2 separate regions of the Homo sapiens genome follow, and region 1 is linked to region 2. Evidence: fine-mapped QTL for protein levels in blood plasma. A gene starts in region 2. The other region holds a variant in brackets. All regions are shown on one strand. Distances are from middle to middle.

What was found. PIP is the posterior inclusion probability: the model's chance that the variant is causal. The UK Biobank Pharma Proteomics Project read protein levels with antibody pairs (Olink). The fine-mapping took linkage between variants from a reference panel, not from the people measured, so its PIPs are less certain.
Region 1: its variant is fine-mapped to the plasma level of the CRTAC1 protein (UK Biobank, PIP above 0.99).

What each region holds. Positions count from the first base shown.
Region 1 is chr10:97,874,468-97,890,089 of GRCh38, forward strand. CRTAC1 (cartilage acidic protein 1) reads right to left here. Exons shown (of 15, transcript NM_018058.7): 12 at 9,739-9,884; 13 at 8,319-8,361; 14 at 5,782-5,925. MIR3085 (microRNA 3085) reads right to left here and starts at 1,430; the gene lies at 1,346-1,430. RefSeq lists enhancers at 1,357-1,857, 7,537-8,736, 13,733-14,346, 14,347-14,959, 14,960-15,572 and 1 more and a silencer at 8,025-8,319. The variant C/A (reference allele first, on the strand shown) is at 8,138.
Region 2 is chr10:98,021,050-98,036,671 of GRCh38, forward strand. CRTAC1 (cartilage acidic protein 1) reads right to left here and starts at 9,572. Exons shown (of 15, transcript NM_018058.7): 1 at 9,400-9,572. The coding sequence starts at 9,423.

The DNA.
Region 1 (15,622 bases), 150 kb before region 2:
TTATGGCCATTTGCCATCTTTTTCTGGTGAATCTGTCAGTTCTCCAGAGGTGGCCCCGTCCTGCCCATCTCTCCCACCACAGGTGTCCTGGGTGGCAGCAGGGTGTACCGGGAAGCACAGGAGCTTTGGCACTGAACGGGCCCGGGGCTCCATCCTGAACGTGGCTACTTAATAATAGTATCTCTAATTTGTTGGGGGCTTTCTATGTGCCAGGCACCATGTCAAGTCTAATATAATAACTCTGTGAGGTATTATCCCCATCTTGCAGATGGGAAAACTGAGGTTCAAAGACACCTTACCTACTTTAAGTCTTTGCTCAATGCCTCTTTCTCAGGGAGCCCCCCTGCCCCCGCCGCTATTTAAAATGGCATTCCACCTCCATCCGGGCCTTCCCGGATGGCCTTGATGTTACTCTTCTCCAGCCCTCCATAGCACGTATCATGCTCCAACATGCTACAGACTTTCCTTATTCTGGGTATTGTTTAGTGCCTGCCACGTCTTGCTAGGGCAGGGACCTTTGCCAGTGTTGTTCACAGATGTATATCCCAAGCCACTAGAACAACATCCAGCACACAGTAGGCGTTCAGTCACTGTACATCACATGAACAACTGGTTAAATAACTTCCCCAGTGTCAGTTACCTAGAGATCGCACAGCATAAGGCTTAAGAACCCAGGCTTTGGAGCTAGTCATGAGGTTGAATTACAGCTCTTGCCACTTTAGCTAGCTATGTGACTTTGTGTAATTTACTGTTTCTGAGTCTCAGTTTCTCTGGTAATAAAATAGACTCATAACATTTATATTCTGGGATGGGTGTGAGTATTCATGGAGACATGGATGTAAAGTTCTTGGCATATGGCAGGCATTGCATAAATGTTAGCTGCTTTCCTGGAGGATGTTTTTCTTCTCTCTTGCGTCTCATTTTCCCTCTGGTGGCCTATTTTTTGACCACTTCACTGTCAACAGTAGTTCCTTAGAGGACAAGCCACCGTGGGAGAGGCTGGCGTCATCTGTGGTGTTAACCAGCCCATGTTCTCTTGCCTTCCTTCCAGGATATGCCTGTTGCTACAGACACAACAGCAACTTCTGGCATGTTCCTGGCCCCTGTGGCTGGGGTTCTGGCCTCAGAGAAGACTGGCCCTGGGCACAGGGAGGCAGGGAGGGGCTCGGTTTGCCTTCTGGGCTGGAAGTCTGGGTGGAGGTTCAGCCTGGAATCTGTTGGAAGAACTTGGCTGGCTCCCTGCAAAAATGAAGTGCTCATCTTCCTGTCTACACGGGGCTCTTGGAGTCTGGAGCGGAGTTCCTGCTTCGGCCGAGGTCCAGTGGCACTGGCCTGGGTGTGATACCCAGACCCTGGGAGGGGGCCATAGCAGCCAGAGTGACACATAATCAAACTCCTGGCCCTCAGAATGGCACCTTCCCAGAGTAGGGTTGGCAACCGTGTAGATGCTTGAAGAGGCCTAGTGGATGGTTTACCATTCTGCCTCAGTGAAGGTTGGCTGAGCCCGCCTGGCGAGGGGACTCTCGACATTAGCAAGCACTGCCACCTCTTCTTGCAGACTTGAACGTGACCGTGGGGAGGACTATTTCAGATCACTAGGCCTCCAGGGGCTCCATTTTTCCCCTCCCAATCCTGCTCTTGATCCTGGGCAGCATGAGTGACTGTGGCTTTTGCTTAAACCAATTCACCATCCCAAATGAAGAAGGGAGTGGTAGTTGAGAGTGCCAGCTGACAGCCAGACTCCTGGGATCCAGTCCTGCCTTCGTCTGTCTGGGCTGTATGACCCTGCACAAACCATTTAGCTTATCTGTAAACGTGGGATAATTACAATACCTTCCTCTTGAGATTATTATGAGGATTAAACGAGTTGATTATTGTAAAGAGTTTAGATTCAACCCAGACACGCCAAGCCCACTAAATGTAAGCTATTATTGTCATTTTAAGGGGTATGTGCCTGTGAAGAGGGAGTATTCTTGAGCAGAATAAAAATGGTATTATTCTTATTATTTCTTTTTTGTTGAAAAATGGGGAGCATTTTTGTGGCAGCACTGGCCCACCTTCCCACTGGAGTGAGTTGTGGCTGCCTGGTGCAGGCAGGTGGGGCACCAGCTCCTCCATTTGCATAATCCCTTCCGGGTCCATTTCATTACTTGACTGCCCCTAAAGGCATTTGTTATTTTTGTTACAAATTAAAGTGTAGCATAAGGCAACAAAGATGTCAGGAGCCTAGGTGGGGCTAAGGGACAGGGAAAAGACAGACTTATCTGTGTGCAGGAGGGGACGGAACGGTTTGGGCTCCCACGGGTCTCAGAGAAAGGGATTAGAAGAAAGAGGGGAATGGGAATGCTGAGCCTGGGTAGCTTGGGGGTGGCTTTGCACCCGCAAATCTGTGGCTGGTATAGCACAGACCAGTAGATGCATTGAATTTGAGGCACCTGTTCAAAAAGCCTGTACTGCTAGCTCAATGAGGAGGCTCTGTTTTTTTTTTTTTTTTTTTTTTTTTTTGGTAAGGGGGTAGGTAATGTTGAGTGGGTTCACTATCCACCTGTCCTCTGTATCTTTCAGCCTTGTATCTCTTGCAACACAAGCATCTTGGGGGCAGGGGACTTGTCCACCTCATTAGAGGGTCTCTATCACATTCCTCATGGGAGGAACCTAGTGCTTGTCATACAGGATATTCTCAATAAATGCTTGCTGAATGAATATGTAAATGAATGAATGCAGAGAGCTTGCTTTCTGGTATAGCAACCTGAGAATTCAGCTCAACTTTTTAGAAAGCCCCTTGGTGTCCCACTCCCATCCCATGCACTTGGCTCCTCTATCTGGCTGGAGGGAAGGCAGCGTAGGGGTGGCAACAATGTTACCTTCACTTACCATTACATACCTAGAGCGTAGCTCAGTACCTGGCACATAATAGGTGCTCAACAAATATTACTTTCACTTACCATTGTATGCCTAGAGCCTAGCTCAGTACTGGGCACACAGTAGGGGCTCAACAAATATTGCTTTCACTTACCATTGTATGCCTAGAGCCTAGCTCAGTACCTGCACATAGTAGTAGGGGATCAACACATATTACTTTTACTTACCATTGTTACCTTCATTTACCATTGTACGCCTAGAGCCTAACCAAATATTTGGCACATTGTAGGTGCTCAATCAGTATCTGTTGAACTCATGAATGAATCAAATGGAAGCCTTATCCTGGAGTCTGAGTGCTGCAGTGGTGCTCTTATCAGCTGTGGGAACTTAGAACTCCTCTTTGCAACTCACTGGACCCCACTCACCCAACAGGATCACATGACACAGATATACCCTGTTATATAAAACTCATTGTGAAGGCATTCATGGTTGTCACTTATAAGGCATCATCTGAAGTCTGCTGTCACCCTGAACCCCCTGATGTCCTTGGCAGGCCATCTCTGTAGTTGTCTTGTCCCTTATTTCTTGTGCTGTTGTGTATGGACAGTCAATGGGCTCTGTTATCTTGTCATTTACCACTGCATTTGGAACCATTCCTCCATGGGTTTTGGGTTTTACTTATCTCACTATCTTAGATCCACTTTGTTCATTTTTTAAAAGGCAGCAGCTTCCAGAAGGACTAGGGAATAGTCTGAACAGTGACAGAGCTGCCTGTTACCCTCTGACAAGATGGTGTGGTGGGAAAGGGCTCCAGCCCTGGCCTGGGGAGCAGTGGGCTCCATGACCTTGGGCACAGTGACCTTGAACACTTCAGCTCTCTGAGCCTCATCTCTGGAGCCCTTTCAGATCTTTAGTTCTATGTCAATACACAGGAATGGGCTTTCTAGAAGTGGAATGATTTTTAAGTTGGTGTCTGCTTTTCAGGGAAATTGTAGCTGTTTTAATTTAAAAACTTTTCATTTATGCTTCTGTTCTAAGTGTAAAAACAGCACTAGCTACAAGGAATTCATATTTTGTGATTTATTAGGAGTATTACCATGATATCAGAAAATGGCAGGGGCTTTTTTTTTGTTGAATATGTTTTTAAAAGGGTTGCTGCATTCTTAAGTGTAATTTTATTATATCCTGGGATGACTTTTTTTCCCCATGAAGAATAGATCTATGTTTTATAACAAGCCTTCACTACTGAGGCTGGTCGTGAGCATATTCTGTGGCGTTACATCATTTCCAAAGAGTGTTCTGGCTACAGGAGCATTCTATTTTCCAAGGAGATTGCAGAGACCAAGTAGCAAGGTTCTTTCTAGAAATCAGAGTAACCTGAGATGAGCCAGGCCTATGTCCAGCCAGACATTGAGGAGTCTTAGAAAGGAAAGGCCCTTAGGGATATACCAGCCCAACTCTCTTGTCATCTACATTAGGGAAACTGAGGCACAGCATGGAGAAGTGACTTCCTGCAGGTAAAAGGCCTAGAGTACACACTCCATTTCTGCCCCTCACTCATCACACATCCTTCACTTGGCCCAAACCCTGGTCCCCCAAATGTGAACATTGTTGTACGCAACCAAACCACTGCTGGTGCCTGAGGGTGACACCTGCTTTGTGTTATGATCTGCTTTCAAAGCATCTCATGGTGGAAGGGCTGCTCCTAATTCAGCATTCCAATCAGTTCTACTTGCCCCAGACCCTTTTTATCATCAGTTTGGCACTAATATCTAGTAGAGAGTTTATTGGCATAATTTCTTCAGAAAAGAGGCTGGAAGGCTTAGCAAGTTCAAATGATAACATTTTTATCAAGAGTCCCAAAGGACCACCCTTTTCCCTCCCATCACCACCACCAACACCAATAAGGCTTTCTCTAGCACAGGAAGTCAGGGGCAAAAAGCAGAAACAGCACAGGCCAAACCAGCAGGCACATGGTACATTATCGGATCAACCGGCAAGCAACCACCTGGGAGCCATCTTTGTTAAGGGCAAAATAATGAGCTCACGAGACACTGGAGGATACAAGACTATCTTGATTCTTCTGAAGGAGTGAGGGAGACTGGATGGGGTATTGGAGACTTTCCTTTCTGTTTTCTCAGAAAACATGCAAAGAAAGTCTTCACAAACAACTAAGGTTGTGTCAGTATCGCCCAACCTTCCCTTTTCAAAGATGGCCACCCCTGTTGTCCATTCAGAGGGAGCACACAGCAGAACCTACTGGGCGTGGAGAGAGAGACAAGCAGCAGGAGAGAGATTTAGTTTTCCACAAAGGCTGTTAGTTTTGTTTTGTTTTTTCCTTTATTGATGGGATTTAAAGTGCATATAACTGAAGGCAAAGTCCAAGGCCTAGAGAAAGATATGAGGCCCGAGAGAGAGGCTCAGAGATTCTAGAGGCGGCTGAAGAATACCCACCTAAAAAGGCCACTTGAGCTGCAAAAACGATGCGGCGGGGAGACAGAAAATGGGAAAAAGAGAAAGGGGGTGGGGACGGGGTGGGGGTGGAGGAAGGAGTTTGGGAAGAAGAAATTACCAGTTTAGAAATTCAGCCAAAGATGAGTAGTAGGAGTTAGTTTATATCCCAGCTATGAAAATACGGGCTGACCTCAAGGTAGGAACAGTTGTTTTAGGAAAAGTAAGAAGAATGATAGCCTCAGGCCAGGACACAGCATCCCCTGGCCCTTCAGGTGATGGTAGAAGTGATGGGGCTTCTCCAAGCCTCTGTCATGGTCTTCCCTGGAGACCCAATATGGGTCAAAGGAGACTCTATCCAGCCAGGAGAAGGAAGGGGCTGGGGACCTTGATCTGGGGCCTACCCAGAGCTCCCCAGTGGAAAGCAACATCCTTTTGCTACTGGCCTATGGCTGGGGCCCCACTCACCCACGCAGGCTGTGCCATCCTCGTTGGGCTCGTAGCCCCGACTGCACTTCTTGTTGGTCCGGCACCTGTAGCTTCCATAGGTGTTGACACATACGGGCTTGTCTCGAGGGCACACGAATGGGAACTGGATGCATTCATTGGTGTCTGCAAGGCGAGGGGAACCACTCACCATGAAGGTGTGGGGCAGCAAGTACCAGCCCAGGCTCTGCCTGCCTATACACTGTCTGGCTTTGGGAATGTGCCTTCCTCGCAGAGCCTCAGTTTCCCTGCTTCAGTTCCCTTGGCTGGCTCCTCCTGTACTTGGTCTCTACATGCTGGGGGCAGGGGGTGGGCACTCAGGCTTGGTCCTGGGTCCTCTCTTCTGTCTACTACAATCGTTCTAGGTGATCTCTTCATGCATGGATGATTCCGAAAGTTCTATCTCCAGTCACAACCTCTCCCCGTGGCTCCAGACTCACGAATACAATAACCCATGACCTACTTGACAGCTCCACTTGGATGTCTAAGATGCACCTCATGCTTAATATGTCCAAAATAGAACTCCAGATTCTGCCCTGCCCTGCCCATATTCTGGCCCTCTGTTCTGTCTTCTCTAGCTCAATCAACACCCCCATCATCAATCAGCTGCTCAAGGGGAAATCAGAGCGACCCCTGATTTCTCCGTCTTTCTTGCCCCCTGTGCAATTTCACAGCAGAGCCTGTCCACTCTGCCCCGCAGTCCACCAGTCCACCTCTCTCTGTCACCTCTTTCTCATTCCTCTGCCACCACCCAATTTCCTGCCATCGTGACCTCTTGCCTGGATTTCTGCAGCTGCCTCCTCACAGAATACCTGGCTTCCCCTCTTCCCTCCAATCCACTCTGCAATTCAGCAGCTGGAGGGAGCCTTTAAAAATGTGAATCACATCATGTCACTCCCCAGTTTAGCTTCTAAGGCTCCTAAGAGCAAAATTCAGACTCCCTACAGGGGCCTCATGGACTCTCCATCATCTCCAGGCCATACTGGCATCCCTCCTGCTCCTTCAACACACAAAGCCTTTGTCCTGTCTCCCGCTTTTCACTCCTGCCCTTCCCTCAACTCTTTCTGGGCCTAGATCCTTCTCATCCTTCAGGTCTCAGCTCAGAGTCTTCCCCCCGAGGCCCTCCCTGACCACTCTCTCTGGAACAGTCTCCAGGGAGCACCTTGCTCAGAGGGTTCTGAAATCATCTTGTCCAGGTGTGTGGTCATGCGTTCAGGGTCTGTCTCCCTCCACTAGAATGGATGCCCCTCTTGTGGAGGCGCGGGGGTGGCACTTGGCCTACATCCCCAGCTCCCAGCATGACACTTGCTGTGTACGAGGCACATAACTGCCTGTTGGGCGATGAAAAGGAAGAGGAGGCTGATCTCAAAGGGTCCTTCCTGCAGGCAGAGAAGACTCTGGAATTTCTATGCACCTGCACTATGTGTTTGGAGTGGGGCTGGGTGGGCATGTGGAGAGTGTAGGGGAGTCATTTCCTCCTCCAGCCACCCTTGGCACCACTGCTCCTCCACCTCCCCACCTGTGCTCCTTTGTTCAGACAGTGCCCCCCACCAGAACCATGTCTCCCCTCTCTGTGACTGCCGAACTGCTCCTCATTCCTCAGGGCCCAGCTTGGACCTCACTTTCTCTAGGGCACCTTCTAGGACCCTCCCTAGGCTGGTTTAGGGCCCCTGCTTTGTCATCTCCAAGCCCCTGCCCTCCCCCATCTGGGCCCTGATCACACTGTGTGGTCGACAGCTGTTTACTTTTGTGGCTCTCCATTGGTTTTCAGCTCCTGAGAGTGGTATCTGTCTTGTTTACTCCTGTATCTCAGTAGCAAAGGGTTAATGAGCAGCTGCAGAGTAGACTTGGGAAGAATGCTGGATGAGGGTTCAAGGAAGGAGGGATCCTTGGCCTGACCCCTCCTTGCTGGTCACTGGGATGGAAAGTGTTGGGGGTGAAGGTCTCCTGGACACTGAACTTCTAGGCTGCCCCTTCCCATTCCAGGCTCTTGGGGACTTTCAGAAGGTTCTTGGACCGTCAAGGAGCTGCCATCCTGGTAGTGCTGCAGCTACCTGCCTGCCCCAGTACTGCACCAGGCTGCAGTCTCCGTTCCACACTGTGACCACACTCCATACACTATTTTGCCCCAATGCCCTTGGCAATGCACACCCTTGCCTGCCAGCCCCCTTGCTTGCTGCTCCACATGGACTTGCTGGCCATGGCATGTGGCTATTCCCCCTGTGCCAGGTTGGTGGTGTGTCTCCTTCCCATCTGCAGTTTCTCGGTACTCATGGCAGGAAAACACTGCCAGTTTCCAGAACCGCAGTGATTCAGCCTGTGGGTCACTAATATCACT[C/A]CCACCCTGGTGAGTCATGTGGTGGTTGTCTTGGCATCTGGAGTCCCAGGACAAACAACACCCTCCCCTGTCCTCCTTTCTGCCCCTTGCTTGCACCCTGGACCTTGGCATGAGTCAGGCGGGCATTCCCCAGGGAGATTCCGGCCTCTACCCCATGCCCTGGTGACTGAAGGCAACTCACCCATGCAATGGCCATTTTCCTGCTGGGAGAATCCTTGGCCACACTGTAAGGTGGGCAGAAGCAGAGACATGAGTGAGTTGAGAAGGTCCCATCCCAGGTTCCCTCCTAGTCACAGCCACAGAGTAGTTGTCACCCTAACCACAGTGTGAGGCATGCTCTGAGCTCTGGGCCTGGGGGGAGCCCCCTCCCTTGTAAGACCCTTCCTTTGCGCTGAGAACAGAAGGCTGGCGGGAAGGCCATGAATGGATACGGTTCAGACTCTTGCTCATTTCCCTGTGCAAAGGATCCACACGAGCTGGGACGTCTAACAGAACCTGTCCCTTCTGTAGCATCACCCTGTGACTGAGGCTGGGTCTGTCAGGGCAAAGTGTAATGAGGGCTGGGAGATGCTTTTTGAGGTGTCTGCTCACTGCCCACATTCACTTCTCCAAGAACCTCTCCCTCACACGGGTGGGTGCCTGCAGCCATGCTTGTGTCCCACCTCTCTGGCCAGGGCTGATGGGTGGACATCCTAGCAGGAGGGAAGACTCAAGGCTTTGCAGCAAGAATTTGAACAAATTGACTCAGAGACTTAAGAGTTGGGAGCCGGCCCTGCCAGGCTGTGGAGGCTCTACCATGCCCATATGGGGGTCTCAGAGACAGCAGCCTGGGGTGGGGCAGGGGACTAAAAACGTAACACACATGACACAAAATGTCAATCAACCGTACTGATGAATGAGGTGGGTGGATGGGGATTGTTGGGGAAGAGGGGCCCCTCTCCTCCCAAAGCCAGTGCACTGACAAAGGTCCTTGAGCTCCTAGGGCTGAGGCCATCAAGCTGCCAGTTTCTACTCATCCTGAGCTTCCCTGAGTTTTATGAGTGATCCTCCTTATAAGCCCCCTTCATTTGTGTCAGTTTCAGTGGGTTCCTGTTAATCGCCACCAAGTGAACCCCATCAGAGTTGGAACGACACTGCTGAGATGGGTCCAGAGCTGCTCCTCAAAGAGCCTCCAGAAAACCTGGTGCAGGCTCTGAGCCCCACCCTAGGGCAATAGGAGGTCTTGTCAGAGACTCAGAAAGAACCAGGAGGGCAGCAACAGACCTGGGGTCATTTTAAAACTTTGCTCACAACTGGCTGTACAGCCTTGGTGGGCCTTGGTGGATTTCCTCTCTTAACCTCAGTTTTCTTCCTCTGTAAAATGGGTGCAAAAATGCTTGCCCTGCCAATACACCAGGGATTCTTTGAGAAGCAGAAGAGATGTGGGTGTGATAGTGTTGTGCAAACTACAAATGGAGGGATCAGTATGAAGCCTTCGCTTTGCCAAGATTTCCATCACTCTAGAGGCTGAGTTTGCAGATTCCTGGGAACCCAGCTTCAGCCCATGGGGTTGTGGGTGGTGCCCGCTTTTCTGGCTATGAGGCCCAGATGCCTTTGCCCACCTCCAGTGGGGCTGGGTCCTGAAGTGTGTCCTCATCCCGGGGGTAGAGGATCTCCAGCACTGAGTTCATCTCCCCGCTGGCCACGTTCCGGCTCACCATCTTGCCATCTGGCCACGTCACCTCCACACTGCTGGCTTCATCCTTCCCTGAGGGGCAGAAGGAGAGAGCATCAGCAGCAGAGGAGAGCAGGAGGCTCTCAGCGGAAGCATCAGCATCAACTAATTCATCCATTGAATAAAAGCATGAATTGAGCACTGTTCTAAGTGCTAGGGAAATGGTGAACAAGACAGATTTGAGGTCCCTCCTCTCTGGAGCAATGCTGTCCAATAGACCTGTCTGTCTGCAAGGACAGAAATGTCCTGCATCTGTGCTGTCCAGTACAGTAGCCACTGGTAACATGTGGCTGTTGAGCACTTGAAGTGGGACTCACGTGATTGAAGAGGTGAATTTTCAATTTTATTTAACTCTAATTAATTTAAATTTAATGGCCACACATGGCTGGTGGCTGCCATGTTGGATAGTGCAGCTCTTGAACTCACGTTCTAGCAGACAGGCCAAGCATCAGGAGGCTGTACTGGAGGATACAGTAAGGCCTGTGATAAGCAGGTTGTCTTTGGAGTCTGGCATTCAAATCATGGCTCTACCCCTTACCTGGTATGTTGGAAAGAGCATGGTGGGAAGTGGGTGGGAGACCTGGGGACAAATCCCAGCTGTGCAGCTAACTGGCTTTGTTATCCCAGGAATGCTTCTTGTGTTTCTATTTATTGAGCTCTGCTAAGGGCCAGGCTCTCTCTTGTCACTGGGGATGCCCCTGTTCTCATGGAGTTCCCAGTCCAGTTGGGGAGACAAGCAAACAGATGAACAAATAAATAATGCCAGATATTGACAAAAGTAGGGCAAGTAGGTAAGGAGGAGCTGGGGGTTGCCAGGGCCTTGTCTAGTCAGGTGGTCAGGGACAGCCTCTTAGGGAGGCGGCATTTGCACTGAGCTCTACATAATAACTTGGAAAAAGAGCTGGGCATGGTGGCTCATGCCTGGAATCCCAGCTACTCAGGAGGATGAGGCAGAAGTATTGGCTGAGCCCAGGACTTCAAGGCCAGCCTGGGCAACATAGTGAGACCCTGTTTCTGAAAAAAATAAAAACAAACAAAAAACAACTTAGAAAAGATGGAGTGATAAAGAGATGGCAGGTGGAGGACAGGGGAGAAAGACCATTCTACAAATCTAAGATGCTTACAGAAGATGATGGGAACCTCAGAGATATTCACAGTGAATCCATTTGCACACAACCCTAAAGCAACGTGCCACATCATTGGTGGAAAGCAGGCTGAAAAGATTTGTCAGATGTTTAGGCACTGTCAAAGCAGGCCCCAGCTCCCCGCGTAAGGAAACAGGCCCGTCACTGTGGCAAGGTCAGGCTAATGGTGATGGATTGGGGTGGGGAGGAGGCGGGGGCTGGGCCTCACCTTCCAGGAGAGGCTGCTCTCAGGTCAGCCCCTGGGAAGGAGAGCTGTGCCCAGCACAGACAGGGGGAGAACACAGCCCACTCTATCACCCATCAGGGCTGAGCAGATGTGGGGACACGGGGTCCTGCAGGGGGACCTGAAGTCAATACACTCCCCCAAACACCATTCCCAGGCTAAATAATATATCACCCACATATATGCACCATTATTTTTCCTAATATATGTAGATACTGTTAGAAAACAAATTAAACTTAAAATTGCTGTTGAATGTATATTCGCATTTGGTCATTACTATCCACCAATGAATTTTACAATGATAGCTACTATGGGGTGGACGGTAGTTGGCAAAATGTCTTGATGTATAAAAGGGGTTCCCATATTTTAGAAAAGGAGGTTTGGAGGCCACATGCAGACTTGGAGGAGAATCTCTGTGTAGACTTCCTGTAGAGACCACTGTGGGGCATGGAGGAAGGGAGCCGGGTGCTGGGGGGAGGACCCATGATGAGGGAGGTTCCAGAGGGAGTTACGCCTTGTGAGCCACATCCCCCAGCTTCTAGATCCTTCCCATGTTTGGTCTCCTTTTGCTCTCTCACCCTGGCCTCCAGGGGAGTATCACTGGAACATCCCAGCCTTGCTGCTGCCATGCTGTGAGCCTATGAGGGCCAGGACCAGAGCTACACTCTGAAGAGTCCATGGAGAGGCAGCCGCTGCCCTCATGGGCACAGCAGGCAGCAGCAACGGAGAGGCTCGGAGACAGAGGCTCATCCTCACACACTGAGTTCCCCTCCCACACAGCTCAGTTTCTCTTCCCACAGGGAAATCCTCTCTTTCCAGGCCCAACCTTACCGTTCTGGGTTTTGCTTTATCAAGCAAGAAATTATTTCTCATCACTCCCTCAATCTACAAGAATTCCTTCTGCAGAAGCGGGGTGAAAATGGGACTGGGGAGTGCCAACTACAGATTTTTTTTTCTTTTTTCTTTTTTTTTTTTTGAGATAGTATCTCAATCTGTCACCCAGGCTGGAGTGTGGTGGTGGGATCTCAGCTCACTGCAACCTCCCCCTCCCAGGTTGAAGCCATTCTCCTGCCTCAGCCTCCTGAGTAGTTGGGATTACAGGCATGTACCACCGCGCCTGGCTAATTTTTGTATTTTTAGTAGAGACAGGGTTTCGCCATGCTGGCCAGGCTGATCTCAAACTCCTGACCTCAAGTGATCCACCCACCTCAGCTTCTTAAAGTGTTGGGATTACAGACGTGACCCACCACACCCGGCCAGATTTCTTTTTTTTTTTTTCTAATTTGAAGTAGAATCTTGAGGCGCAAGAGATTTGGCATTTTCAGGGTGTACAGTTCCCAAGTTAAGTGGCACATATAAAAGGTAAATATTTGCCATTAAAAGAAGGAGACAAAGAACAGCAAATGTTTCTTACCTAAGCCTGCAGAACAGCTACATGAATGTGTTTTCCAGACTGACTGAAGGGCCACAAAGGACCCAAAAGAGTCACGGAATATTCATAGACAATCACAGATTTGCATGTGGTACTTGCGGCACTTAGGTTTTTTTTTTTTTTTTTTCTGTTTTTATTTTGAGATGGAGTTTTGCTCTTGTTGCCCAGGCTGGAGTGCAGTGGTGGGATCTCAGTTCACCACAACCTCCGCCTCCCAGGTTCAAGCAATTTTTCTGCCTAAAGCTTTCCCGAGTAGCTGGGATTACAGGCACCTGCCACCACACCTGGCTAATTTTGTATTTTTAGTAGAAATGGGGTTTCTCCATGTTGGTCAGGCTGGTCTCGAACTCCTGACCTCAGGTGATCCACCCAGCCTCGGCCTCCCAAAGTGCTGGGATTATAGGCGTGAGTCACCACCACCAGCGGGACTTAGTTTTGAGTACTGCTTCCGCAGCTTCCTCCAGACCCAGACGTGGTGCAGGGGGCCTGGGGCTATGAGATAAGCAGGCCTCAGAAAGCACAACCAGCAGGACTCCCTCCTCTGCCACTGTGTTTTGCTAACTTGGGCATCCTCTCTGGGCCTCAGCTACTTCATCTGTAAGATGGGGGTGCTGGCCAACAGCCTTACCACTCCTAGGAAGCACAGCCTTTCTACCCTGGAGCAGGAGTCCTGGCCTGCTGTTAACCATTCACCTCAGCATCCCTGGCACCATCGGCTCTTGGTCATGGGGTCTCCCTACAGTTTCCAAAGGGCTTTCAGGTGTTGGTAACAACAGTGAACACTGACAGCGTGCCCCAAGCTGTACCAAGTGCTTTATGATGCTAACGCATCGAAACTTCACATCTCCACGAGGAAGGTGCCAGTGTTATCATTTCTGCCTTAGAGATGAGAAGGTGGAGCCATGGACAGATGCAGTGAATCGCCCAGTTGCCCAGCAGAGGTCCGAGAGATCCCAGAGCCGGTATCTACTGTGCCCCTGTTACACTGCCCACCCTATCCCACGCCCAGCAGCCACCATATACCAAGCTTTGTGCAGGGATTTGGGATTCAACAGAGAATGAGACAGACCCAGGCCCCATTCTCATGATTCCCATGGGAGCGATGAATACAAGTGATTATATTATAAGCTGGGAAAGTGCCACAACAGCACTGTTACCATGTGGTGAGAGAGATGGGTCATTTCATTTGGGTATTGCAGGAGGAGTAAGAGTTTGTGAGGCGGAGAAGGGAAGGAAGGAGCGTTCCAGGGAGAGGATACAGTGTGGGCCAAGGTACAGCAGCGTGAAAGGGTAAGTTGTAGCTGAAGATCGGGAAGAAGTTCAGAGCGGGAAAGAGTGTCAGAATGTGTATCAGGTGGGAATGTGTATCAGAGGAGACTGGGGAGGGGCTTCAGAGGCTTCACACTTACGAGGTGGGTATTTATCCCCATTCTCCAGATACTGACATTGAGGCTTGACAAGGGGAAGTGACTTGCAGGTGTCTGAGCTAGGACTGGAAACCAGTCTCCTGTCCTTAGGCGCAGCTCATCCCTCTGCCCAGGAAATCTGCGTAACATCTTAAGTCTTTCCGGGGCTGCACGGGCTGAGGGGGACTGGCTCCCAGACACCGCACACCAGCAGCCTCGAAGCCAGCTGGTCCTGCCAGGCCTGTGTATAGGGGAGGGCTGAGCAGAAGAGCGCCCCCCATTAACCAGCAGAGACATGAGGTCAGGAGCAGCAGTGAGTCACCTCTGGCAGCTTTTAAAGGACAGAGGCCAAGGAGGCAGAGAGAATTGCACTTTTCAGAAGAATTACAAACAAAACAGATGGTGGGAATACAGTTGGTAGAATATTTTTGCACTTTAATAAAGCAATTTTTATGTGGGCCACTGAATTTCCCTTCCCTAAATGAGCATCAGCCGGCTCGGAGAGGCAGCTCTGAGTCACCTGCAAGCAATTAGCTGAAAGGCGGTGGCATGTGTGGGTGGGGCTGGGGCACCAGCAATACCAGGGGCAGTGGAGGCGGGAGGGAAGGGGGGGAGGGGGAAGGGGGGAGGGAGAATGGTTGGGGTGGCTGCCTGAGCCAGTGACTCCCAGTGGAGCTGGCGGAGGCAAATAGATGATTGGTGTTGTTTTTATTTTCCGGGTTTGGGAGTGAGCTGCCTCAGCCCGCTGCCAGCTGGGAAGTGGAGGGTGGGCATGTGGGGCTTGGGGGTGGGTTCCGAGCAACCAGGTTGGCGGTGGGGGAGCCCTCGACCAGGGCCATAAGCAGAAATGCTTATTTTCAGCTGGAGGTCCGTCTGCACCGAGGAGCAGCAGGGACAGGCCAGGGTGAAGAGGGGCTGTGGAACTTGGTGGGGGGGGGTCCACTGAGCAAGGCAGGGTCCACTGAGAAGGGACCCCACAGCAAGATGTCGCTATGAGAGCTCTGCACAACACAGTGGGCCCTCTGGGAACCCCGCATGCACTCATTACCCATGGACGGAGGTGGGGAGTACAGGTGAGGGCCTGCGTCCTCTGGGTGTGCTCCCGCGGGAGCAGACACGATGTACATGGGGCAAGGCTGAGGCTGTCTGAGAGATGCACACGTGTACACACTCACATACATGTCCGTGTACTCACACATGCGCACTGCACCTTGCTGCAAAGTCATGGGGAGGCAGCGCGTGACTCATGGAGGCAGGAAGGGGGCAGGGGCCCTGGGGGCAGGCAAGCTGAAGCCTTGTGAGTGCTGGCAGGGGAGCTTCCCGCCGGCCCCTCCCCTCTACTCCTCAGTCATGCGGGACCTCAAGGCAGGCCTTTCTCAGATTCATGTTGTTGACATTCCCGCTTCTCACCCCAACTGCTCAGAATTGGAAACAATCTAACTGTCCTTCCAGAGGGGACTGGGTAAATAGATGATGAGTGTGAGTGCTGTCTCACAGTGAAATACTCCACAGCACTGAAAGGAAACAAGATATATGCACAGACTTGGTATGCTGTCCAGGATGTG
Region 2 (15,622 bases):
TGTGCACCTACTCTATGTCAGGTACCGCTCTGGGCACTAGGAAAACAGCTGAGAACAAGATGAAGTTTTGGTAATGTATGGCATTAGCATACATTCTAATGCTTCTGTTTCTCCACCCTGTCCCCCACCCTTGTCCTCTGTATTGCCAGCCTAAGAGACAAACTCCAGACCTCTACAACTCCCTACCCCCCAGAAGGTGGCATGTTTCATGCATTTTCCCCAGCACCAAGAAAATGTAAGAATTCCTCTTCCTCCCCTCTACCTGGAGACAGCTCTAGACACTGCCTGCAGCAGCACTCATAGACAGGAGACTTGGGCTTGCTCCAGAAAAAGGCAGACAAAACCTCGGGGGACCCAGGTGAGGAAGTGCCACAGAGGCCAGTGGGCTAATGAAATGGTGTTTCTGAAAGTGAGAGGACAAATGGAATCTCCTAGCCTTATGCAGAAGTCACAGCAGGTTCTTAATAGGTACTATTAACTGCTCAGACTTCCCGTTCTGTAAAATGGGAAATAATGTTTATCGGGTTGCCATGAGAATGAAATGAGGTGAATGTATGTTAAGTGCTGAGCATAATGCCTGGCATAGAGAAAGTCCACACGTGGTAGGTAACAGTACCAATAATCACACCATTACTACTAGTAATAAATGTTTGTGAGATGCATGAATGCATCTCAGGTGAGGGAGTCCAGGCCTGCTCGGTGCTCCCCTTCCAGGAGTAGTTGCCAAATGTTGAATGGAATGCTCTGGGCTATGAGACTTTGAGGAATAGGTTTGCTTCTGTAACTAATTTGTCTAGGGGACCCTGATGGAGTTCTTTGACTCCTTAAATACTGCTTCCTAAGCACAGAACCCCTTAGCATGCTATGCTATACACATTAATTCTTCAAACATTGAGAAGATGCCTATGGGCCACGTTAGAAATGATGAAAAAGACGTGGTCCCTGACCTCAAGGAGCTTACAATCTACCAGGGGTGAGACACAATTCAGTGGGATAACCTCAGAGTAGAAACAGGTACAAAGTAGGCCGGGTACGGTGGCTCACACCTGTAATCCCAGCATTTTGGGAGGCCGAGGCGGGCAGATCACAGGAGGTCAGGAGTTTGAGACCAGCCTGACCAACATGGAGAAACCCCAACTCTACTAAAAATACAAAATTAGCTGGGTGTGGTGGTGCATGCCTGTAATCCCAGCTACTTGGGAAGCTGAGGCAGGGGAATCACTTGAACCTGGGAGGCAGAGGTTGGGGTGAGCCGAGATCACGCCATTGCACTCTAGCCTGGGCAACAAGAGCAAAACTCCTTCTCAAAAAGAAAAAAAAAGAAAGAAAGAAAGAAAAAATAAAAGAAAAAAAGAGACAGGTACAAAGCCTCGACACAAGCCATAGGAGGGAGGGATTAACTAGGGACGTGGTGGGAAGGGCAGGCAGAAAAGGCTCTCTGAAGATGGTGAATTGGATTCTAGATGCTGGAGACCTATGGATCAACGATATGGATGTGAGACAGCTTGATACATGCTGTGAATGCATTTGTTGCTGCTGGAATGCAATGTCTGGGATATGGGGTGGAGGGGAGAGAGAAGAGGGGAGGGTGGGGACAAGGATGGAGACACAGTCTTATGTGGGGCAGCAGCTGGGGCCTGGAGAGCCTGCTATGCCACGGTAAGGAGCCTGGAGTCACACCATGAGGGAAGTTTTGAAGTCGGGCAGAGACAGGATCAGACTTGCATTTTTGAAAGGGCATTTTAGACTTCAGGCAGCAGTGTGCAGGATGGATAGACCGTGTTTCTGAAGAGTGAGTGAGAGTATCACAGAGAGGATTTGAACATCCTGGGGCCAGGGGTGGGGTAGGGCACTGGATGACCTCCAAAGTTCTTTTCCAGGCCTAATAGTTTACGTGTCAAGTTTTTTCCCTAAATAATTTAAAATGCACTCGTGGACCCCACTATTTAAAAGGATCCTCCCAGATATATATTTGTGATTCACTTCCTAGTTTGTCTCCAGTGGAAGTCCAAATTTCCATGCAGTCTATCAGCTTCAAGCAAAGTAAACCTGCACTGAGCTTCCCTGCAGCAGCCAGGTGGGAAGGGGGCGGGAAGGAGAGGGAAAACAGCAAAGGGAGGTAAAGAGGAAGAGAAACTCAGCCTTGCTCCAGGCTCAGAGCCAGCCACCATCTCATGGAGTGGGCCTTGCCTGGAGTCCTCAAGCGCTGCTTGATCAGGGGACCTTTGGAGGTTTACATAGTCCTTGTGCCAGCTCTGGGAAGGAGCTAGATGGAAGGCGGGTTTGGAGATCAAATCGAATACCAAGGGTCACCTCTGCCCCAGAATGGCCACCAACATTCACTTACTCATTTGTGCACCCACTGAGCACCTACTGAGCCCCTCCACATGCCAAGTGCCATGCTAGGCACTGAATTTGTGGCTGAGAACAAATGACGGTGTCTCCCTCATACTGTTTACAAGGCAGCATTTCTCCTTGAGGACTCTTATTTCCCCACCTGAAAAAAGCCTCTTTGGATATACACAGCTTCTCAGATGAGAGGTGCATGATGATGATTTCTAAGAAAGAGCCTGTTCTTAGAGACCAGAGTGAAAGGGAATGTGCCACCCCTTAGAGGAAGAGACTGCCGGTGACGGAAAGAGCCTGCCACCCAGCTCCTCTGATTACAGGGACTGACCTCCAGAGGCTAAGGGACCTGCTTCAGGACACACAGAAGATTCATGGCAGGAATCTACATAGTGACGCTCCCATGTGGGAAGGGAGGGATGTCACCTCAGTCCTCTCAGGGGAGCCTCAAGTGACTTCCTACCTCCCATCCTGAGCACAAGGAGGACAAGACCAGGGTCAGACCTCATGTGAAAAACACCAACCAAGGCTGTTCCCACCAATCCTATAAGAGCGCCTCTGCCCTTCTGGGAGGGGAACTTCCAGCTCCCAGGCCTGTTCCCCTTCCTAAGAGCTGTGTTAAAATTTGCACAACATGATGCTTCCTTTAAGACAGGTCTACATCAATAGAGGGCTGGAATGCCAAAGCAGGAATCTCCACCGAGGTGGCTGCTCTCTAGGTAGGTGAAGGCTGATGTAAGGAAAGAAAGCAGTCCCTGCAGTCCCTCCTCAGGTCACCGGGACACTCCCAGGGCTCAGCAGTGATTCCCATGACCTTGTCACTGTACTTGTCCGGTGCAAACAAAGATAAGAGTAACTGGAAACAACAGAGAGGGTCATTTTATACTCTCTGCACTCTCAATTCTTCCATAGCTAATTAAAGTAATACGTCAAAATGTCCCTTGGAAGAGCTCTTTAAGAATATGTCTGTTAAATAAACAAGGTTTCACTGATTAATGACACACCTTCCCATCCCTCGTTGAAGTTCCTTGTGGAACTTCTGGGCCAGGAGGGTTGAGCAGGAAAGGATGGAGGAGAAGTCGCCATCACCCTTTCTTGGAGGGAGGGGGCACATATCCAGCCTCTTGTCATTTGTGGAGCTATCAGTTTCTCCTCTGGATGCTGATCAGATTTCCTGGGCTGGAACCAACTTACAGGGCCAGGGTACTGGAATTTTTCCAAGAAGTAAACGCTTTGCTTCTTACAAAGTCAACATGATTTCTTTCAAGGAAAATTTTAATTTTTTTAGTGTCTAGGGTTTTTGAAGGGCAAATCTTTGGACCTTTCTCTAAAGAGAATGATTATATTATCCTTTTTTTTTTTTTTTTTTTTTTTTTTTTGCTCTAAGACCACCTCTCCACCACACACACACACACACACACACACACTCATAGAGAGGCATGGGGGTGGGAGAATGATTTGTCCAATATTGCACAATGAGTCAGTGGCATAGCCAGAAATACAACTATACAAACTCCCAATTCTTAATAATAGAAATATTAATATAGTCTCTATAATTTTCTATTTATTTTTGTTTTCACAGCTCACATTTAATTTTCACAACAACTCTGGGGGAATCTGGGTAAAACGGTCTCAGGAGAGAGCAGATCTGAATTGCAGACCAGCTCTGTCACTTGCTTGCAGTGTGATCCTGGCTGCTTCCCTCTCCTCTCTGGATCTCAGTGCCCTCGGCTGTGAAATGGGAGAATTGGATGAGAGTACTTCTAAAATCACTCCCACCTCTAATGTGCTGTGATTCTGTGCTGCAATGCTCCAGTCCCGGGTTTCTCAATCTTGGTGTTAATGACATTTTGGGCCAGATAATTCCTTGCTGTGAGACGTGTTCTGTGCACTGTAGGATGTTCAGCAGCATCCCTGGCCTCTACCTAGTGGATACTAGTAGCACCCCATTCCCCAGTTGTAACAAGAAAAAGTGTCTACAGACATTGCCAAATATCTGGGAGGGGGAACAAAATAACCCCTCTAGTCACCATTCAAGGATTTCGATAAGGTAAAAATCATGAGTGGTTCAGGGGAAAAACGGTCTTCCTCTCCCTTCCTTTCCCCCAACCCTTTCACACCTTTCTGCACACTTTTCAAAGACAACCTCTCAGTCCTTTGCTGCTTCTTATTTCTTAAATGCCCTAAATGGTCTGGGGTGTGTTTGGTGTGATAATGAACCAATTGATTTCATACTTTCTCCTAAGGAAAGTTCACAGGTTTATGTCCCCTAAGCAACCAGCCAGGCTCTCCAGAAATCCCTAGCAGAGCCCAGGCTGGCCTGGAAGCCTGTATCTGCAGCCTGCAGGAGGCTCGGTGAGCACGAATTTGTCAGCACTCTTAAATCACTAGGCTCCAAGGAAGGCTTCTCCCAGCAGAAAGATCCTTCCTTAGGAATCAATAGCTCAGGGCCCTCCATCACATTCAGAATTATCCTGGGACCCATAAAATTTCTTTTCCCCAAGCATGGCAGAACCCCAAAGTGAAAACCCTGAGGTGGGGCAGGGAAAGAGGCAAGGAGGGAGCCCTGCCAAGAAGGCCTTGCCCATCAGCCCAGATATTGCTGTGAGCAGAGGCTGATGTGCAAACCTGGGCACTCAGGCTCACTCACTGGGAAAAAGAAGACTCGGGGGTTCCCAGTGATTCAGCAATAATATCCCCTTCCAACTGAATACCTCTTTACCTCTAACCAAGGGCAGAGGAATACTAAAGACTGTCTCCCTCCAGCTTCGCTCCCCTACCCTCATCACATGGTTGTCAGCCTCATCATTTAGCAGAGAAGGAAACTGAGGCTTGCAGAGGTTAAGTGGTTTGTTTAAGGTCTCTAAGCCAGCAAGCGGAGACCAGATTCTAAGCCTGTGTCCTTACCATTACAATGAGAGGGGGAAGGGTCAGCCATCTGGTGGGGCTCATAAAAGCCCCACTGGACAATTTCCTGTTTCTCATAGTCTAATGCCACTTCTCAAGCTCTCTACCCACTCCCGCATTCAAACAAAAGTCCAGAGAGCTTGTACTATAACCACAATGTATGTAAGTATATTCCTCTGGTCTTATCCAGAACCAGAACAAGTCTTGAGAATGCAGGCTCATTTCACCAGGTAAAGCTAGGAGCTGGTGAGATCTCAAGCATAGCCTCTTAAGACTCCAGTTTAAAGAGAGGGGCTTTTCCTCTCCGGTGGTCCACGTGATCCTGCACCTCCCTCCTCCCGCTGAAGATGAAGCTCCAACTTCATCTTCTGTGAGCATGAGGGAGAGGAGGGGACTCAAGCATCTTCCCTGGCAACAAGCATCCCTTTCGTGAGTCTTAGGGAGAGAAGAGGATTCCGCCTCTCAGAATTCTGGCTTGGCAGCAGTGGGTTTCTTACGAGGGTAGGCTTCCGAGTCTGCTGAGGCTCCAAGGAGAACCAGGAGGAAGTCCATCCAGTGTGCAAAGAAGCCAGGTGGGGAGATAATAACAAAAGGGGGCCGGGCGCGGTGGCTCACGCCTGTAATCCCAGCACTTTGGGAGGCCGAGGCGGGCAGATCACGAGGTCAGGAGATTGAGACCACAGTGAAACCCCGTCTCTACTAAAAATACAAAAAGTTAGCCGGGCGTAGTGGCGGGCCCCTGTAGTCCCAGCTACTCGGGAGGCTGAGGCAGGAGAATGGCGTGAACCCGGGAGGCGGAGCTTGCAGTGAGCCGAGATTGCGCCACTGCACTCCAGCCTGGGCGACAGAGCGAGACTCCGTCTCAAAAAAAAAAAAAAGAGAACAAAGGGGGCCGCCCACAGGCCACTCAGCAAACCTGTTTCCCAGAGCCCAGCTCAGATGTCGACAGCCAGGCTCTCGGAACAGAAGAAAGGGCAATGGAAATGGTAGTATCTTGCAGGTCACCGAAGAAGTCCAAACATAAGGATTTGGCAAAAATAGAATGTCCTAGCACTCTGACCTTGAGCTGGGAGCAGCAAGGGTGGGGGAAATAGGCAAATACTCTTTGGAAACTCTCCAATCCATCTATAATCTGAATCTGGGAGGTCTCACCAGCAGTGGTGTGACTGCAAGCAGAGAGACCCCACGCCAACATTCCTTGGCGCTCCAGACCTGGGTTCCAAGACCACAGTGAGGGACTCGGCACTTCTGACTCCTAAATGCACAGACTGAAACCTGGACTTGCATGGCTTTTGCTTAAAACACCACTTGGAATAATGAGACGAGATTGTAGAGGCAGGGAAAGAATAATTAGGAATTTCTATGACCTGTGTATGTCCATGACAAGAACTGTATTTTCTCCTCACCTCCTCACTCTGAAAAACAGATTCAAAATAGAATCTCCCCAACTGTATGGGATGTATTAATTTACCAAAGCCTGGTCAGTCAATAACTATGAGTGCCTACTGTATAGAGAAAGTATGTCCATCTTTATAGTGAAGAGGAAGCAGGCCGCTGGAGTGGAAACAGCTCTGAATCGAGCAGTGGGAATCCTAGGGCCTAGTTCCATGTCTTCCACCAAATAGCCATGTGACCTTGGCTTTATCCAGCTTCAGTTTTCTCATCTGTAAATTAAATGTGCATGTGAGTGTTGGGATGGAATGGGGTTGGATGAGATGCTCTCCAAGGCTCCTTGCTTCTGGCTCTAATGTTCTGGAACTCCATGAACCCTTAAAGAGTTCAAAGAACACAGCGGCACCAAGCACAAAGGAATGATCCCCGAGAGAGGGTGGGGCTGTGTACCAGCTCTGTCTCCTTGGAATGTTGTGCTTGCACCTGCCCCATAGCACCCGAGGTCACAGGACCACCTGAAGCCCAGGAAGCATGTGGTAGAAGGATTCCAAGTACGATGGTGGTGGTTGAAGGCTGTAGCCTGAGCTGCCTTAAAGCATTAAGTTGCTACAGCCAGTAAAGGGCAAGAAGTGAGAAAGTCAGTGGTCCTGAGCCAGGTACCTTTGGCGCCCCCTACTGGACACCAAGGAGTCTGCTCCACCTTTAGGCTTCCACCGCCTCAGCACGGAAGCAAGGGAGCGCTTGAGCATGAGAGGCTGTCACAAGCTGTTTAGTAGGACTGCCTTCCCGGTTGGTGGTATTCTTTCTATAGAAGTCTATTGCACTCCCTAGAATTACACAGGCCATTGGTCCACAGATTTACAGGGGCACCCCTGCGCAGCCATAGGACGTCTTAACCAAACATCAAGGTACCAAGGAATAAACACCAGGGTTCAGAACACCAGGTGCAGCCCAGATGGAGAAGGGAAGAAAGAGCAACAAGCAGGTATTTCGCTGCACAAATCCCCAGTGGAGAGAAGGTCTTGGGAAATGCAGCAGAAAAATGTTGACTGCAGCAGACAACGATGGAGCTGGGGGTTGGGATATAGATTGATAGCACCCATAAAATATCTCCAGGCTGAAGCAGGTACCCTAGGAGTTTGAACATCCACCTACATTCAGGGATGGGATAAGGTGGAGGATTCAGGCTCAAATGAGCAGCCACAGAGCAGGTTCCCCAGACTCCCTACACACCGTTTCGACCTTTTCCAGAGTCCATTAGTACCCACCGGAAATGGAAATGTTCTAATTGTGGTCCTCTGTGCCATCATCAAGACCCTCAACTCCCTTCATTACCTCTTAAATTGACTTTAGGACCTACTGCCAGAAGGATGTTCTTAACCAAGTCAGAGAGAGAGAGAGAACATTTTCTCAAGAACCATGCTGGAACAGCCACCATGTTCCCACTTTTCCAGCCTCCACCTCTCCCCCATGGCTGAGGGTGAGGTACTCTGTGACTCTCAATGAGCTCTAATTCAGTCTTGGACATCTCCAGCCCCAAGTCGTCTGGGTTCCAAATCTCCGTCAATCGCTTATCTCTTCCCACATGAGTTCTCCCCTGACTCAAGAAAACACTATAGAACTGTCCCCTGTCCTGGGACCCTCTTCCCTTCTTTTCCACTTGGCTTCACGTGGAAAGTCCTGCACCCATCCCAGAAGACACCTCAAGTGCAACTCAAGAATGTGTCCTGTCAGGAGAACGGAAGCATCTCCTGGGATGTGCAGAAGCCACACTGGGTGCACCCACCAGCAGCAGCAGCGGCGGCGGCGGCGGCGGCGGCGGCGGCGGCGGCGGCAGCAGCAGCAATATTCATTAGTCATTCCTGGAGGAAGCCCCCCCAGCTCTCAACCCTAGGAGAATTTCCCCGCCACTCTGGGAGGCTTCCATCCAGGCTGGGATGACTTTGGATTCTTGAGTTGCTTTCTGCAGAAGCGGGACTAACCAGGGCTCCCAACTACTGTACTGCAAAGAAGCGCGCTGCATTGCTGGGCATGCCCCCAAGCCCGGCCTGGCTGCCCCATCAAAGCCTCCAAGTGCCCCCACGGGGTCGAGGAGGACTCAGGGTTCCCCTGGAATGCCTGAAGCCGGCTTGCCTCAGGCAGCCTGAAGGGAAGACCACACCTCGTCCAGCATAAGGCGGCTAGCAGCTACGCCGCGCGCGGGGCTGGCTCCCGGAGCTCTCTGCCACCCAGCGCTGTGCCCGGGAACTCGGCTTCCCAGGGGAGGAAGAGCCAGCCCGCGGGGCTCTTCCCCAGCCTGGAAGCGTAGGCACTCGGCCGAGGCCAGTGGCTTCCCAGGCCCGGGTCTCAGCCTGGCTGACTGGGAGACTCTCCCGATAGCCCGGCACATCCCTCCTCACCCGCTCCGCCCCCTCCAGGCCCCAGAGGCCCCCTCCCCTGACAGCTGACCTCCAGTGCGCCCCCAACACTTTCTCTGCCAGCTGCTGGCTGTCGCCCCCACACATCAGCTCCCACCTCTCCGCCACCTCCAACCCGGCCGCCGCCTCACCCCCAGCCCGCGGGGGAGGCTCCGCGCGCCAATCGAGTCCAGCGCCTCCCAGCAAGTTAGGAGCGAAGCCGCCGCCTTCGCGATCCCAGTCTTCCCGGGTTCCCGGGCGGCGTCCCCGCCACCCTTGCGGGCGGATCCGGGGGGGCGCGCAGAGCTGGAGAAACTTTCTCCGCCTTAGGGTGGGGGGCACCGGTGCAGATACTCACGCCGGGGTCAGCGCTCGGAGCCATCCTCCCGCTCTCGGCCCCGCCGCCTAGGGGCGTGGGAAGCGGGCGCTCGCTGCCGCCTCTGCCGCCGGCGCCGCCGCCTGCTTGCTCCCAGCCCCGGTCCCGGGCTGGCCTCGAGCCTCCCGCCCCGACGCCGCGCGCTCGCTTTATACAACTCCACTCGAGCGCGCCCGGTCTTATGTAAAGGCTGGCGGAGGCCCGCAGCCAATGGCGCGGCAGCTGGAGCCGGGGGCCCGGGGTGGGGGGCGCCGGCGCGGCCAATCGCGGCCCCGAGAGCCCGGAGAGCCGGGCGTGGGGAGGGAGCGCCTCCCCGCGCTGATTTAGGAGCCGGGATTGCGGTGGCAGCAGCCGGCAGCCAGGCTGGCCCGGCGCGGCGCGGCGGCCACTGGGGTGGGCGGCGGCGAAGGCGGCGGCGAGGGCGGGCGCCCCCCGCGCCCCGCCACTGCGTCGCGTAACCTTCAGGCGGCAGCGAGGCCTGGCGAGGAGGGGAGAGGGCGCCTGGCTGGGCGCTGGGGGCCCCAGGCCGGAGGGAAGCGAGGGTCCCTCGGGAGGCAGCGCAGGGAAGGAACGCGAAGGGGGAGGGGAGGGCGGCGAGCCCCAGGACCCCGCGGCCACCCCTGCGCGCAGGACCGAGGGTGGAGGCGGGAGCGGCTGCACTGCCTTCCCATTTCCCCCCAGGATAGCGATCTGGCGTCGCCGGGCCGGGCCAAAGCGGCCGAGCGAGCCGCGCTGATGGCGAGATTTCGACTACGGAGCTAGAGCCGAGCCGATCTTTATCCAGCCTGGGGACGTGTCCGAGCACCTCCCGGGGACTGCTCAGTATGGAGAGCAGGGCTCCGCGACGGCCCCCGCAGGCGGGGAGCGGGCGAGCGCAGCTCGGAGATCAGGCGCGCAGAGGCCCAGGCGGCTGCGGGCAGCGCCGCTTCTACCCCACCCCGTCCCCACCAGCAGTGCCCCCACCCCATCCCACCTAGTCCCTACCCCAGCAGTGGCCGAGTCGGGCCTGGCCCACCCGCTCCTGCCGCCTGCGTCCTACTAGCCTCCCTCACCGCTTTGATCACAGGTACTGCCCGCCTCTCCTCGCCCCCAACCCGCTGCCTTGGTGGTGGTGGGGGGATGGTTTCTGCCTCTCTGGACCAGGGGAATGGGGGTGCTAAGCGCCAGAAAAACACACTTGATCAGCAATGCTCAAAATACCCCTGTTCAGGCAGGAAACTGGCCTTGGTGGGTCACACTCTGAAGGCAAATCCTTTATTTTACGCCTAGAATAGAGCCTGGCACATAGTAGGCGCTCAGTGTTTATTGAATGAATTCTGAGCTTCCATGAGTGAGGTCTTTGGGTTTCTGAAAGCCAGGTAAAGGGGCCACAGAAGAGAAAGACTTGGGAATCCACCATCGGAGAGGGAAGGAGCTAGGACTGTTTTCCCATCCGTTGACGCTTTTGTGACCATCACCCACTAGTCTGGCTTCTGGGCCCTTGACTCTTAGAATGATTTGAATGTGTTCTTTTATAGAGGGCCACACATCCAGCCTCTGGCCCCTGTTATCCACAGATTTTGAGCAGAACTACCAGGACCTAGTCTGGGCTCTGTTTTCAGGTCTCTGTGATCTTCCTCTGAAAAGAAATAGCTAGGCACAGACAAACTTTCTGGCTTTTTGAGCCCCCATCAAGCCTGTAAGGTTGTGGGCCCCTTTGAAAATCTGGCAAAAATTACTGAATCATTTTTCTAGAAAAATATACAAACACACACATTTACACACACACACACACACACACACACACACACACACACACACACCTTGAGTATACTTTCAGGATCATTAGGAACCCTGAGTCTCTTGGGGCTCGGTCCAATGTCAACCTGTTTCTTCAGGGGTCTAGGACAGTAGTTTATAATCACCCTCCTTTTGGGGATCACAGACCCTTTAGAACCTTTCAAGAATCTCATAAATGTTATGGATCTGTTGCTTATAAAAATGCTCACTCACATACACACATGTTGACATGCAACTTTAGGAGGGTTCGTGGATCATTAAAACTTAATCTAGGGCCCTGATTAAGAACCTTCATCTATCGGCAAATAGACTCTGCCCCCAAGGCCATATCTGATCCCCAGCTCTCTGCATAAGGAGTCCAGTTGGCTCTGCACCCTGCTGGAACATGCCACCACCTTGTTCTGAGGGCATCTGAGTCATCTGGCCAAGGCTCTGGCACCTGAGAGACTGTCTCCACACTTTCTCTGCATCTTGGTCCCCGCCACCCTCTTAATGTGGAAATAAGTTGCAGGTTGTCATATTATGTCTGATCTATGAGCATTCCTTAGCCAGAAACTCCAACTCAGGGAGACAGCAAGTGACTGGTAATTAACCAGTTTCACTCAATCCCAAACATCTGAGCACACCTTTCTTGGTTTTTGTTCTCACCTCTCTCTTCTCCGGTGAAGCTGTGCACAGCAGCCCCAGCTGTAGCGCCTCACCTCACCCAGACCCGACAGATTTAGTAACCAGCACGGTAATTATCAGCATTAGCCAACCAGATGTGAATAGGTGCTCTGTGCAAAATAACTCTGTAATAATCTCACACTTTCCTGCAGCTAGCCAGGTAAGGTTACAACAGACCAAAGGTGCTAGGGAAGGACAGAAAAATGCAGGAAATGATGGAGATGTTCCAGCCAGGAAGTGCTCCAGGGAATACAATCTGGCTTCAGCACTTGAACTTGTGAGGGTTTAGCCCAGTGGGCCAGGCAGTCCTGGTTGGAAAATTTCTCATTTCTCTGATGTCCTCGATGTCCATTTGCTCAGTTCATGTCAGTGTCTGCTCAGAGCTCCAGCCCTTCCCCACCCCCAATCCCGTGAGAGACCTCTTGTCCTCCCACATTGCCCAAACACAGCTTTCTTGAGGCACATGCACACGGTTATAGACTGAATTGTGCCTCTCCGGACCAAATTCACATAGTGAAGCCCTAACCCTTAGTGTGACTGCATTTGGAGATAAGGCCTTTAAAGGGGCAATTAAGGCAAAATGAGATCATAAGGGTGGACCCTAATTCAATAGGACTAGTGTCCTCGTAAGAAGAGAGAGAGATACCAGAGATCTCCCATTTCTCTCTGTGCATCCTCAGGAGAAAGCCTGCCTGAGTAACAGGAGGAGGCCATCTGCAAGCCAGGAGCAGGGCCTCTGCAGAAACCAGACCTGCCAGCACCTTGATCTGGGACTTCCAGGCTCCAGAACTGTGAGAACATTAACTTCTGTGGTTAAGCTCCACGTCTGTGGTATTGGCTATGGCAGTCTGAGCTGACTAATACACACATTTTCAGCACACCCTTACCCCATGCATCTTGTTCAGGCTCCAGTCCTTTGACCCCAGTGAAGTTGTTTTTTCTTCAGAGTGTTCCCCCACAGACTTCTTCATTCTTACCTGGGGAACGTGCTTAAATTGTTTTCTCATCTGTTCATACCCAAACCAAGTCTTCCTTCCTGCGCCACCTTCCAAAACTGCCCTGGCCAGCAGTTTTCAGCTCTCCTGCAGGTCTACACCATCTTATCACCTGTGATGCACATTAGCTTTTTTTCACTCAGTGATACTTGGCCTCCCTATCAGAATATGAGCCCCTTGAAGTCCAGAGTTTGTACCTTGCAGTTGACTACCTCACAGAACCCAGCATGAAACTGGGCACAGAGTGAACACACATTAGATATTTGCTGAGTTATTCCAATTAAACCTATTTACTTAAAAATACTATTAAAGCTGTACAGTACTTCATTTTCTAAAAACTCAAGATGTATTGTGTGTGTTAGTCATCATCAACATCACTGGAGCAGGAGTTCTCAGGAGCTAGTTTTCTTCTAAAGTCCAGGATCAGAGAGGTTGGACTTTACGCAAGTTGCTAACAGTCATGCAACAAGTTAAGGACAGGACAAAAACTGTAGGAAACACTGAAGACAACCTCCAGACCCCATGTCCTTTCATTGACAAATGACTTTGTTAATTCTCTCTCTACATTAGAAGATTACTTGGCTATCTTCTCTCTCTCCGGGTGAGAAGTCAAGACACCAGATCTTAGAGATGCTTCTGTCCCAAGAGTTCTGTCACAGGAGAACAGAGAGGCTGGTACAGTTCCTCACACCCTTATCTGAAGCCCTTGAGGCCAGAGGCATTTTAGAATTCAGAAAGGCACCATACATAAACATTCTCAGTGAAGCTTTGAGCAGCATATTGAAATCAGACACATTAATATTTCTGCAATGAAATATATGAAGTTTACACTAAGCAGGTGTGAGGATAAAGTAACTTCACATCAGTTTAGGTCAGATTTTGCTACCAGATGAGTCTTGGCATCAAACTTGCAAAACAAAAATCCTTTTGACTTTCAGAGATTTGGGGATTTGGAATTGTAGATAAGGGATTGTGTATTTTAGGCTTGGTTGTCTCAAAAGAAATGAATCTTTTTGTAAGGGGGTGGAAAAACAGCAATAGTTGAAAATGGGAAACCACAAACTGTGAAAGAAATGAGGAGCTAAAGGGGGTATGAGGAAATAACCCCTTCTCAAACCAAGTCGTATGGAGGGGTCGTCCCTTTTTCCCAAGGAGTACACATTTATCACATGGCCGTTGGGTTTCAGATGCACTTGTGGCTTGTAAGAGGCAGATGCATAGGATGGACTTTCAAGGGGAGGTAGGTTAGGGGTAAAGTTGGACAGGAACTCTTTTAGAGAAGCCACAAACCCTGGGGGATGGTTCAGTCAGGGCCAGAGCCAGAGCCATCACAGATGCAGAAAGGAGTCTTCCAGATGGCCAGAGAGTTTGTTCAGAAGACCTTGAGCTGTGAGCGCATGCTGCAGGGAAACTCTGCAGGCAGAGCAGCCCCAGGAAAGGGATGCTGGAAGAAGGAGGACATGATGGAATCCTGGGGAAGTCTGGTTAGAAACTTTCGAGGCTGTGGGGCAGGGGGAAGCCTGGAGGTAACGATGCAAGCAGGTGTCTGCTTATCATGTTAACCTGTGCCAAAATGGCTTGGGTTCCAGGAACTTACCTGCCTATGTGTCCAGTGAGCTACGGGGTTTTCCCACACTGTCGTGGGGGTGGCTCTGCAATCTGAGGGGCTGGTTAAGAATGTGATGCAGGGAGGGAGATGGGAAAAGGAAAGCCATGGTGGGCCGCTGACCACACAGCTCTCTACTCCTGCTTGAGATGCTCAGCCAGCAGTCTTCATGATAAACAGGCTCCCTGGAGTCCAAGTCAACAGCAGGGAAGCTTCATCTTGGATCTTTATCATTGTTGCTGACCTTGGTCCTGCTCTACCTTTCTTCTCAGGTCCTAGGACCCCACTGTTACCTTTTTCTTCTGAGAGAGCTCCTGCTGGTACCCCCAGCTCCAGTCACTGGGTCTCCATCCATTCTCACCTCCTGCTGCCCTACCCCATGACCCAGGACCTCAGGGCCTAGGATTCTGGGCTCTGGATGCTTTCCTTTCTTCCCTGTGACTGAGTCTTTAACACCTGCTGCCCCACATTCCAGGCATCAACTGCCCTCTTGAACCTCTGCCAACTGCCTCATGCCAGCTTCCTTTAACATGCCCCCAACCTGGCCTCACTTCTGCCTCCAGCTCCCAGGACCTCCCCAGACCCTGGCCCTGCCTTGGTGGACAGGTCCTGTTTTGGGTTCCAGCCCTTCCTGGTCTGGCATATCCAGCTGCCAACCCAGCCAGGTTTCTGACAGACATGAGCTCATGGTCATGGTTTAAAAAAGAAAAGAAAAGAAAAACCCTGTCAGCAGTTGGGTGGTGGTAGCATACATTTACTAGCAGCAAATGCCAGGGAGCTCCTGAGCTAGGGATGCCCTCGTCAGTTTCCATCCTAAGGGAAGAGAGATAAATGGGTGAAAAGTGAACAGAAGAGGAAGGGGAACAGGAAGGAGTAAATAAAAGGAGGGGAAGAATCAAGAGAAGAGAGAAAGGGAAGGGAGGATGTCGGGAGAGGGAGCAAAGTCGGGTGGGAAGAGTGTCTGTAGCTATAGCCTGTTTTCAGTGTCTAAACCGAGCATGGAGAGCTTGTCATCCATAGAGTCAGACATTGACACAAAAGAAGATGGAAAAGGTAATTGAGCCTGTGTGTGTGTGCATGTGTGAGGAGGGGTGGAGGAGGGGGGCGGGGAGAAAGAGAGAGAGAGAAAGGGGACATAAGAGAAAGAGAAGGGTAAAGA